2 separate regions of the Homo sapiens genome follow, and region 2 is linked to region 1. A link means that fine-mapping ties the variant in region 1 to the expression of a gene that starts in the linked region. Tissue or cell type: lymphoblastoid cells. Region 1 holds a variant in brackets; the other region holds the start of a gene. All regions are shown on one strand. Distances are from middle to middle.

Evidence for each region. PIP is the estimated chance that this variant, and not a neighbour inherited with it, causes the effect.
Region 2: PGM2L1 starts here. The variant in region 1 is fine-mapped to the expression of PGM2L1 in lymphoblastoid cells (GTEx, PIP 0.97).

What each region holds. Positions count from the first base shown.
Region 1 is chr11:74,329,950-74,336,285 of GRCh38, forward strand. It overlaps PGM2L1 (phosphoglucomutase 2 like 1), which reads right to left. Exons shown (of 14, transcript NM_173582.6): 14 at 367-6,336. The region is part of intron 2 of LOC112268078 (a long non-coding RNA gene); the gene reads left to right. Among named protein-coding and RNA genes, the nearest start is that of P4HA3, 21 kb to the left of the region's middle. The variant G/T (reference allele first, on the strand shown) is at 2,988.
Region 2 is chr11:74,394,908-74,401,243 of GRCh38, forward strand. PGM2L1 (phosphoglucomutase 2 like 1) reads right to left here and starts at 3,526. Exons shown (of 14, transcript NM_173582.6): 1 at 3,144-3,526. The coding sequence starts at 3,254. MIR548AL (microRNA 548al) reads left to right here and starts at 4,330; the gene lies at 4,330-4,426. RefSeq lists enhancers at 1,175-1,676, 1,677-2,176, 3,268-3,889, 3,621-3,990, 3,890-4,510.

The DNA of each region.
Region 1 (6,336 bases):
AACCCTTGGAAACTCAGTCCTTCATCAGTATTGAAGCATAGATCTACGGTTATTACCGTGAGAGATTTCCAAACTTTAAACTTTTGTCTTATTATAGTAGCTGGCGCTAACATGGGCAAACAAATTAGATCAGCTTAAGGAGAGAAAAAGAAAAGAAAAATAAGAATGTTAATGTTAGTTCTCACATCTGGGACTTCTGATAAACCAATCAAGAAATATTTCCTGAGTACTAAGCCAGAATATTCATTTAGATGCAAAGTGGATTCTAGGGTATGTGATGTGTGTATTTCAAGAGTATTTCCTGTTTAGATAGCAAGCTTTATGAACTACACAGTATCTCAAATAAAAATTACACAGAAACTCATGCCTATGAAGAGACCTGTTTATTACTGATAACACTTCATTTGGCTAAAACCACAAGAAATCCACACACAAATACATAAAGTGCAAATTCTCACAGGCAGTACTTATAATACACCCTGGTGTTTTTGTAGGGAAAAATGAGAAGATGTTGACAGAAACTGTTAAAACAAGGGCACAATTTTGAACTACTGCTACACACTTTAGTCAGAAAAATAATTCATTCTTGACTGCATAAATTTTACCTGGCATATTCAATGAGGCATACAAAGAGTTTATTCTAGCCTAGAACAACAAGGCCTCACCATACATAGAAGCAGAGTCTTGCTTGAGTGGCTCTTGTAAGATACATGATGAATCATAACAGTGGACAAAAACATACCAAATAGGATCAAATTTGTTGTGACTCACTTGGAAGGTAGTGCTACTAGGCTCAAAATGACACTTAGACTAGTGATATTAAGTCTACATAGACACCATTTCTTTACCTTCCTGGCCAACACCTTGCTTTGAGTGTAAAATACCAGGCATTATATATAATTTCCACAGAGAGATATGCTTTGCTCTCTCCAAAGAAACTGAGTATTTAAGGGGATGTCTGCTTAATAAACATTACATTATAAAGTTCAGTGATGGGACTTCATTGAAAAAACTGAATTAGAAAATTCATTTTTTGATTGTTCCTTAAACTATTTGCTACTTTTAAAAAATCCCTTAATTCCTAGTATCAGCAATTAAACACTCTATAACAGGTACTGAACTAGGTGGTATGGATATGAAAAATAATAAACCACGATTCCTACTCTCGGGACTGAGCATCAGGTGGTCCTTTTTAGTCAAGGAATGCCAATAGTAACAAAACTGTTTCAGGTCAGTTTAGTTTGGCATTAATCCTTCTGAAGGTCAGATTCCAAGGGCAGGAAATAGTCTGGATATGTTCTATGTTTATATATCTTTTTTTTTTTTTTTTGAGATGGAGTTTCACTCTTGTTGCCCAGGCTGGAGTGCAACGGCGCGATCTTGGCTCACCACAACCTCCACCTCCTGGGTTCAAGTGATTCTCCTGCCTCAGCCTCCCGAGTAGCTGGGATTACAGGCATGTGCCACCACACCCGGCTAATTTTGTATTTTTAGTGGACACAGGGTTTCTCCATGTCGGTCAGGCTAGTCTCAATCTCCCGACCTCAGATGATCCACCTGCTTCGGCCTCCCAAAGTGCTAGGATTACAGGCATGAGCCACCGAGCCCGGCCTATGTTTATATATCTTGCACTACAGCCAGTGTGTGTAGCTCAAGGACTTGCCTCCACTGGGGGTGAGGGCACTGGGGGAGAAAACTGAGCAGCCACGTGATGAACATGGTGCTCCTTTGTGGTGGCATAAGTTTCAGTAAAGATTAAACATATCATTTTTATATTAAAAGTTTTATTATAAAGAATGCAAAATTCACTTACATTTTAAAGACAGAACACACTTCATGTCAGTGGTAGGCTGATTCTGATTTTGCTCTCAGAACCCCTTCCCCCTTCATCATGCCCCTCTGCTTTAGGGTTACGCTAGTGGAAAAATTTGAGCAGCAAACTCTAGGTATGTCACTTTGTCCCTATTTGGTCACTCTACACATTCTTATAGGTTCTCTTTTATAAGTACATAGTCTTGAATAAACAAAGAGGAAAGATGGTCTAATAAATATATAGTATGGTGAATACTTTAAGGTAACCAGTAGTCAACACTAACTTTGTTTCCAACTAGAATTAAATTCATGCTGTGCAAGGAGTCAGACAATGAGCAATTCTCATCTTACTATTTATACCTCTATGGCTTAGGGTAAGATGCTCTGAGGGACAAATGTGAATAAGATTTCCTTAGATCTTGTGCTTTGGCTCCCCAAGTACAAGGAAACCTGAAATAGAATGTTATGTCAATTGCCCATTCATTTTGGTTAGTACGACTCTTTCCTCATCAGTTTCTAGAACAATCTCAGATGACAAGTGAATTGTAAAAGGCCGTAATAAATTAACATATAGCAGTATGCAGACAGATCAAAACAGGTTATGAAATAGATTTAAAATTACTTCCTACAATAAGTCTTAAATATAATGACAACATTAACAAAATAACCAAAGGTCCATAGGCAAATGTAGTTTATGACTAAGCTTAAAGCATTCTGAATGAATACAGTTGAGATTTCTTATCAGTGAGGTAACAGGGCAATAGTCCTTCACAGTAACAAAATGTGCAAGGGTGCCTAGGAAAAGTGGGAGGTAGAGAGAAAAAGGCATAAAATTAAATGTATCCAAGTGAAGTTTGGATTTTTCAAGCATCACAAATATCAATGGAAAATGTGGAAAAAAGTACTGATAGCAGCAGCTCATAGAACAACTTATCCATTAAACTACAGCTAATATCCCTGTTGCATCAATTCCAGAAGCAACTTGCTTAAGAAATGGGAGGTCTATTTCCTATATAAAGACATTCCAAAGTATCCAATCTCTTAGAACCTCTCCATCTGCTAACGTATCTACATCAAAATAACAACATATATATTCAAAACGAAAACCTCAAATAACCTAAGCCACTATACATTCTTCAAGATGAACAAAATTTTGTTCAAGTCTCACTTAATTT[G/T]CCAGGTTAAATTAAAAATAACAGTGAAGCAGGAAAATTATTCATTGCACTTATGCATCAGTTACTCAAAACACACAAAAATTGTTTTGTGAGCTAAATTCTTCTAGATATGGAGTGAAACCCAAATGTTACTTTTAGTGCCCTTTATGACATTTTTGTTCTAACCTGAGTTTTTAAAAAAAATGTGCTGGAAAGAAGGACCCTTAAAAAGTCATCTGTATATCTCTTAATTTTTAAAATTTTTATTCCCTTAAAAATAAAAAAAAGATTTTGAATAGAAGATATTATGAAGATTTCTCAAGAAGTTCCTAAATCTTAAACTTTCCATGCTGTCTTTAAAAAAAAGATCCTTATTCCCTCTGGTTCTGTCTTCACTAGAGATGGAGAACACTATGGCATAGTATTTCTTACTTTGAACCCTTCAATAAAAGACTCAATAAAGCTTTATTAGCAAACTTAGCAAACTATCTCAACAGCTTTCTCCTCTCCAGAGTCAAACAATCTTTATTCCTTGAACTTTTTCTCAGAAGTCTTATTTTCTAATCTACATTTTCTTCCTTTTTATTTCTGCTCTACCTCTTCCTGAGTTCTCACATGATTCTGATACAACATCCTAGCAGGAACTGAATCCGTAAAAGGGATACTTTTTCTCACCTCCTAAACCTTGGCCTCATTTTAGTGATCACAATAAAGGAAAATGGTAGGTGCATACTCATCATAACAACAAATAAACACAAGTAAACAGGTGGGACACAGTTTATTCCCTACTGTTATGGTGTTACATTTGCCCTTCACGAGAAGCATTTCCCGTGTCTCTTTATATTGTTTGCTTATTTCTACTGTTTATTTCCAATGTATGCTTTGATCTTGCCCTACTAATTCTCTCCTTTTCTCCAAAGCTTTAGAAAATTCCAGTTTTGACTTTCATGCTCAATGAGAATGCAATCATTTTCACAATATTGTTCAAAAAGAAAAAGATAAACATTGTAGTGCCCGAGGCTGAGACCTCCTAGCCAGCACTTCTGTCTCTCCTGACCAGCTTGGGCTATCACTGAATTTATCCTGTTAGGCAAATGTGCACCTACTACATCAAGTTCATGTTAAGTATCATGCTCAGACAGACTCATGACAGGCTAGAATAAAATAATTCCCTCAATCGATACACTTCAGGAACATTTGTAAAATTTTGTTAACTTGAGAGAAGAACACTTCAATAACTTTTCACCTTAAGATGACTTAAATGTTGCATTATATTAAAGCACTCAAATAAAACTGTTTTCTTCATAATAGAATGACAGTCATGACATGGCTTTAGTAACTATGAATGAGCCGTTGATTCATTTTAGCTTCATTTTTGTTTATCAGTCACTGAAACACAGAACTAAACCAAATATACCTGTTTTTCATATATACAACATTATACCACTTTGCAGAATATATGCCATTTCCTAAATTACAATCTACATTCTTAAAAGCATATAAAACAAAAGATGTTTTACACATTTTAAAAATAAAACAAAAATTCTACACATATCTTCTCCAGTGCAAAGCCTTTGAAAACAAACTCATTGAGAAAAATGGTGCTCTACATTTAGCTAGCTGTCTATTATCTACAGTCATACAGTCATATAAGATCCAACAATAAGAAAGTAAGGAAGGAACAAATTAACAATAGTGGCAATACAATAGTTGGACAATTAGGTTTGGATTATATGAGCTCAACCAAATGTTAGCTGACAGCTGCAACAAACGAAACCATGATTTAAGGAACATTCTAATCAGTTCAAACTTTATATTATTATTTTATATGAAATAAATTCTCTAATTACAGTGCTATCTCCCATAAGCAATTTGTTTAGGTCTTGTTATTGTTATCTCCTAACTATACCCCATATGTATTCTGAGAACTATGTAGGACAAGATACATTTTAAGAAGATTAAACACAGCATTTCTTTTTCTCTCTCTCTCTCTTTTTTTTTTTTTTTTTGAGATAAGGTCTCACTCTGTCATCCAGGCTTCAGTGCGGCAGTGTGATCATAGTTCTGTAACTTAAACTCCTGGCCTCAAGCAATCCTCCTGCCTCAGCCTCCCAAAGCGCTGGTATTACAGATGTGAGCCACCAAGCCCAGCCTAAACAGCATTTCTCTATTAAACCTTTTCAGAAGACTGCATGATTAGCCAAAAGTGACTTTTTTTTTTTTTGAGATGGAGTCTCCCTCTGTTGCCCAGGCTGGAGTGTAGTGGCGTGATTTCGGCTCACTGCAATCTCAGCCTCCTAGGTTCAAGCAATTCTCCTGCCTCAGCCTCCCGAGTAGCTGGGACTACAGGTGCCCACCACCACACCCGGCTAATTTTTGTATTTTTAGTAGAGACAGGGTTTCACCATATTGGCCAGGCTAGTCTCAAACTCCTGACATTGTGATCCACCTGCCTCAGCCTCCCAAAGTGCTGGGATTACAGGCGTGAGCCACTGCGCCCAGCCCAAAAGTGACTTTTTGTAAAAAATTATTTTCTACACTAAAAGAAGATAAATAATAGTCATGCAATCAGAAATTCTACAGAAGTCAGCAAGATGTTAGAATAAACTGGACCTCTGTTTTAAAACATGTAGTTTTAGTATTTCATAATACTTAAAATTTGGATGTTTTATTCTTAGTAAAATTAACATTACTTCATAAAATAAAAGAATAAATCTACTTACAAAAATGTAATTCAAAAGTTAGACTGTCAAATAAATTCAGAGCTCCTTTCTCAGTTCAGATTTTTTTCTGTAATAAAAGGTTTGATAAATGACACAATTCTAATATGAAGATCCTTAACTACATTAAGCTTGCTTTTATTAAGATCTTTATTTATATTCCTAAGATTTTAAAATCAGCAAACTCACTTGATATAGAGGAAGCACCTACAGATTTTGGAAGATTTTCCTTAGCTATCTGCAAATTGACTGATTAAATTATGGTAAATGCAGGAACACTGTTTTTTCTGTTCACACCAGACCCTGAGAAGGCACTGAGAAATTTGATAAGAACAAAGCCAATAGGAGTGTTGCCACTATTGTTTTATGTTCAGTAAACATCAGAATTTTAAATACATACAGTAAATTTATACTGCACCAAGGGCACCTGAAACAGACATGCCAAAACCACACACTGTAACATCTGTTCTAAACTACAGAAATGCTAAATATCCTATTTCAAATACTCTAATTTGTAAATTAATACCTGTGATGTCACAATGACACTTTTTCATAACAATCAAGGAAAGTACCATTTTCTTGCCAATTTTATGGACTAATTTCCTTAACTAACCCTACAATTATATAACATTTACCTGTCTTTTTTTTTT
Region 2 (6,336 bases), 65 kb after region 1:
TTTAATTAAATAGGTATTCATCAGGTGTTAAAATCAGTTTCTCTGTTAAAAGACTACATATGCCATCAATATATAATGTAAGAAATGCCATGAGTCTGATCTTATTTTACATTTCTGCACTCTAAATTTCAGTGCCCTGAGACAGTCTAGCTTACCTATAGTATCAATCTACAGTAGATACAATTTCTCCATTAAATGTATTCTCTCCTATTAAGAGAGGATCAATGAAGAAATTTATTATATTTATTAAATAATTAACAAATTACTTAATCTATTCCTCTGTTAAGGATACTTATTACTTGCCCCTATTATTTATGCTTTTCCTTCCCTTCTATTTTCTTTAAAGATATGATCCATATCTATTTCATCTTTCTATCTCTCACAGGTTTCAGCTAATGCCTTATATTCAGAGGCACTTTAAATACAAATTAAGAATTTATCTTCCACTTTCAATGAAGTTTTATCTTCATTATTTTTATTTTGTTTTATTTATTTTTGAGATGGAGTCTCACTCTGTCATCCAGGCTGGAGTGCAGTGGAACGATCTCAGCTCACTGCAACCTCCGCCTCCCAAGTTCAAGTGATTCTCTGGCCTCAGCCTTTGAGTAGCTGGGACTACAGGCACGTGACACCTCGCCTGGCTTTTTTTTTTTTTTTTTTTTTTTTTTTTTGTATTTTTAGTAGGGACGGGGTTTCACTATGTTGGCCAGGCTGGTCTCGAACTCCTGACCTCAGGTGATCTGCCCACCTTGGCCTCCCAGGGTGCTAGCATTACAAGCGTGAGCCACCGTGCCTGACCTCTCTTCATTCTTTTTATGTATCCTATCTTCTAATGAAGTCTTCCTTGAGCATCTCAGTCCACCGTTTACTCCTACTTTTGAACTGCAAGAACTGACTGCCTACAAACCATTTAATTGCCACCAAAACTACCCTAGCATTATTATTTTATGTGCATTTTACAGGTTTCTTTAATATTTCAGTATATCCCAACAATGTATAGGCATAGAATGGACAATCAATAAATATAAATTCATTCAAACAATCTTTTAAAAATAATTCAGGGGCCGGGTGTGGTGGTTCATGCCTATAATCCCAACACTTTGGGAGGCTGAGGTGGGAGAATCCCTTGAGGCCCAGAGTTCAAGACAAGCCTGGGCAACATAGTGAGACCCCATTTCTAAAAAAAAAAAAATTTTTTTTAATTAGCCGGGCGTGGTGGCATGTGCCTGTAGTCCCAGCTACTCGGCAGGCTAAGGCAGAAAGATCACTTGAGCCCAGGAGTTCAAGGCTGCAGTGAGTGCAGTGAGCGGAGATCGCGCCACTGCACTCCAGCCTGGACAACACGGTGAGACCCTGTTTAAAAAAAAAAAAAAAAATCAATCAGGAGACTCATTAGGAAAAGTACAGTTAAAACTGGCACCTAAAGAGAACAAAAAGTCTTGCTACTCCAAGTGTGGTCCACAGACCAGCAGCATTAGTATCACCTGAAAATTCATTCTTTTTTTTTCTTTTCTTTTCTTTTTTTGAGACGGAGTCTCGCTCTGTCGCCCAGGCTGGAGTGCAGTGGCGCGATCTCCGCTCACTGCAAGCTCCGCCTCCCGGGTTCAAGCCATTCTCCTGCCTCAGCCTCCCGAATAGCTGGGGCTACAGGCGCCCGCCACCGCGCCCGGCTAATTTTTTGTATTTTTAGTAGAGACGGGGTTTCACCATGTTAGCCAGGATGGTCTCGATCTCCTGACCTCGTGATCCACCCGCCTCGGCCTCCCAAAGTGCTGGAATTACAGGCCTGAGCCACGGCGCCCGGCCGGAAATTCATTCTTAGGCAGAATCCAAGGCCCCACCCCAGGCCTCCTGAATCAGAATTTGTATTTCAAGATCCCCAGGTGATCTATAAGCACATTAAGGTTTGAGAAGCATTAGTTTAGACTGTAGAGGAAGAATTATTCGTCCAATATACATATGACCAATTAACACCAAATACCTCATTGTAGTTGCTTATTTGTTGGTCTTCCTCATCTGCTAACTGAGGCTTGTTGAGGGCAGGAACCCTTTCTATTTTCCTCACAAGTATTTCCTGGGTCTAACAAGACCTAAAACACGCACTCAGCATTCAATATTTTTTTGCTGAATGAATGAATGAATAAAGTAAAAACAAAACTTTCAGAAAGTGAAGCCTTAAGGAAATTCATTTGTACAACATAATGTCACATACTACCATACAAATTCCTTAATTCAGTGTCATTAATTCCATTTTAAATGTGCTGCCTTCTCTACTTCAACAAAGGTATTTTACGCACTTGACAAAGCAAAAGCTTGGATTATCTTCCTCTGTTGGAGCTACCAGGGACCTCTTTTACAAGTAAGATAGCTGCATTTTAATTCTGATTGTCACAAATTCATCCCAAATGCCCGCACGAGGTTTAATTACCACCACAACTTGGAGGTGGGGGCGGAGGGTGGGTGGGGAGGTGTTGGTAGAGAAGTAATGGTTAAGGCAAAAACAATCCTGTATTAAGAGTACCACATGAAACCTGGAAAACACGATTCCTTGAACAGATTAATTCCAGAAAATAGCTGCCAGCAGGAGAAAGAAGAGGTAAGCGCCTTGCCTTTCCCAACAGCAAAAGGTGATACTAGACAATACCAGGGAGTGATAAAAGGCCAGCAACTACCTAGCGACAGAAGGAGGAAACACACCAGACCAGAACTAAAGCGGATAGCGGTTAGAAACGCCCAGTAAGGGTGCCAGAAACCACTTTCAGGTATGTGGAGAAGGAAGTCAAGGGAGAAAAAGGGAAAGGAAATCGTTGTTTAGGGTATAACTTACAATGATGATGATTTTTTTTTTTTTTTTTTTGAAGAAAGAGGGAAGACAGCACTTGAAAGGAAAGAGGGTAAAGAAGAGGAAGGGAGGTTACAATTGAGAGCACTGCAGAAGGAAGCGATGCAGATGTTGCCGCCCGGCTCTGGCAGTCCGAAGGAGCAACCCCACGCATAGGTGGGTGGCAACGCCCTGCTCCGCTGCCCCCCGCTCGGTGTCCCGAGCCATCTCCTCTGCAGCCCGCGGGGCGCTGGGTGGGCACAGGAAAGAGCAGACTGTGTGGGGGAGGCGACGGCGTTTGCCGGGCTGACCAGGTACCCACCTTATCCCAGCGGAGCCACTGCCCGATGGCCGTGTCCAGCTGAGGGTCCCCGGTGTGGTAGGGGGCGTGGAGCAGGTTGGAGTTCAGATCCCCCTCTGTGTTTTCAGCCATGGCGACCAGACAGGCGTACGGGCCGGGGGCCGGCGAAGACACTGAGTTGGGGTGGGGGGTGGCTTGGGGTTCGCTCACCAGGGTCCAGGCGTCCCCACCTCACTGAAGGGCATCGGAGACCAACCGCAGGGTGTTCGTAACAGCTCCTGCCGCGGCGTCAGGGAACCGGGAGAGAGGGGGTTTATGGCCGCCTGCTCCCCAGCGGACCAGGTCCGGGTCTCTGGGCGAAGTGACTGAGGCGGTCGCGCCGCGAGAGAACAACAGTCCCAGATGTCTGGGTCCTGGCTCCGCCGCCGCCGCCGCCGCCCGCCCCGCCTACGGCCCCGCCCCGCGCCTTAGGCCCCGCCCCTTCCCGCCCTTGCTGATTTAAGTCCCCGAAGTTCTAGACTGGAGCCCGGGAGCGCGCTCCCCACGCCTCCGAAGTAGTGGGGGTTTACAGCCCGTCCGGGTGGTGAGGCAATAGTGCACGGTTCTTTTTATTTTTTAATTTGCCAAGGGTCTCCTTTCCTCGATCTGCTCTCACGGCTACCACTAGCAAGCTGCCTTTGCGCTTGCCCTGCAGGTCCCCAGCGCGCGCGCAGGCCCCCAGTTTCTCTTGGGGGCACGCGCCGGTTGGGGGAGGAGGGGCAGTGCGAGCTGTCCGCGCACTGCCTCACGGGAGTTGTAGTTCTTTCCTTTGTCTGAGCTCAGCGGAGACCGCCGCCGAGACTACGACTCCCAGCAGCTCCGCGTTCCCCCTTTCCTCAAAAGAAAAAGATCTACCTCGAGGTAGTTCCCTACAGACACGCCCTATCCCTATTAGTTATGCTGCGCTGTGTGGCCCTGGCATTAAATTAAACAAGGAATGACATAGTAAGGGGACAAAGTGGTATCCGTTTAGTGCTGTGCAGTTTACGAATCGCGTTCTATCGCCTCAATCCCTCAGTAAGGTACAGGGGCGTAGTCCTTTTCCGTTTCACACACAAAGAAGAAACTGACTCCCTGAGACACCTCTCCTAAGAGGCCGAGTTCGTGAGCGGTCAAACTAGGGTTCCAATCTCATTTCAGATCCCCTCAGCTGGCAGTTATTTTATTAGGTCGGTGCAAAAGTAATTGCTGTTTTTGCCATTAAAAATAATGGCATTAAAAGTAATGGCAAAAACGGCAATGACTTTTGTACCAATCTAATATCTCTGCTGCTATAGTAAACTAGGAGGTAGGGAGAACAAGATTACTGGAAAATAGATAAGGAAGTTGTTGAGGGAAGATGGTCGGCATTTAACCTAAATATAAGAATGTATAAGCATCACAAGATACCAAGAGCAATGGTAATGGGAATACGGAGGAAAAGGAAATTGGTTCACCCAAATTGAAATAGTCTTCCGTTACTTCTTAGCCGTCTCTCCTATGGAAAGCTCACCTAAGTTGAGGTCTGGGAAATGCTGAGAAGTGCTGACCTGTCAGCCACCTAGCTACTCCTCCGTTTCTTGGTTTGGCCTTCTTAGAATGGCTATGATTTTGGGCAAGTACATTACAACTCTTTCCCTAGTCAGCTTTTTTGTAAGGAAGGTATGATAATATTTACATCATGGCTGTACAGTAACTTAATAAATGGCATTAGGCTGCTTTGAGGTTCACAGATAAAAGACATATTAAGTTCAAAGTATTACTTTATTTCCTTTAAAGTGCCATTTACCATAATAAAATTCAAACTACCAAGGTACAAAAGGATTGTGGTACCAGTTTCTGAAAAACGTGCCATAGTTGGGAGTTGCAGTTTTTGCTAACGATTGTTTCTTTTGTGGAGTCAGCAGGACTCTTGTTCTTTTAATCACACAAGGCCTGGGCAACAGTCACGTGTCCTGGAGAGAAATTCATCTTCCACTACCATCACCATTATTATCCATGATACATATTAAACATTTACTCTCTGCTAAGCATTATGGTAGGAGCTGAGGCTACAAGAATCTATATAATTGTTCACTTCGAGAAGTAACATCTGAGGAGACAGGATATATGTAAGAAAAGAAAGCCCATGATAAATAGCAAGTGCTGCCAACAACTGTTAATGAATTTACATCTGAGGTGGTCAATGAAAAAAGCATCAAGCAGGAGGGACCTGCACTGGGCTTTCAGAAACAAAATAAACAAGTTGAGAATAAGATAGAGGATATTTCAAACCCATAGATCAGTGGTTCTCATATCTCCCTAGGAGTTTGTTTAAATTAATATTCCTGGACACTGCCTCCAGAGATTCTGAATCAATACATTGGCATAGGGCCTAGGTACCTGCATATTTGAAATATCTATTGACTGTCACAATTCAAAGTGTGATTAGGAGGACAACTGTGCTGATGTCCTCTGGAAGCTTATTAAGAAATACAAAATTTCATACCCCAGTCCAGTTCTGCTGCATCAGAACCTACATTTTAACAAGATCTAATGATGAGTTATATTTAAATTTGTTAAACAGTGTTTTTTATAAGACAATTCTTATTCAGTTCATTTCTGAGAAACACTACCAAATCAACAGAGCTTTCAAGACATGGAAAAAAAGAGTCAACTAACCTTCACTTTTATCAGCAAGATCATAGCAGACATTTACTGCTTACCAGAAATCTTGCCCAGCGGATTAGATTTATTGTTTGGATGTTGGAGGGTAACCAAGGAGACCCAGAACCCATCAAATCCAACAGCAGTGTCTAAGTGTGTTCAGCAGAGGAAGTGTAGTAGTTCCCCTAGTCTGGGAAAGCTCAGAGCTTTCATTTCTGTTGGAATTTGCCCATGGCATCCTGCATTTTTATTTGCTAAGCCTGGCAACATTAACTGTGGTTATGAAAAAGAATATCCTTCTTGGTCCCCGTATACAGTCATACATTGCTTAATAACAGGGATGTGTTCTGAGAAATGCATCATTAGGTGATTCTGTCATCTTAACATCATAGAGTATACAAACCTAGGTGGTATAGCCCACTACCCACCTAGGCTATATGGTACAGCTTATTGCTCCTAGGCTACAAACCTGTACAGTATGTTGCTGTACTGAATACTGTAGGGGACTGTAACACAATTGTAAGCATTTGGATATCTAAACATATCTCAA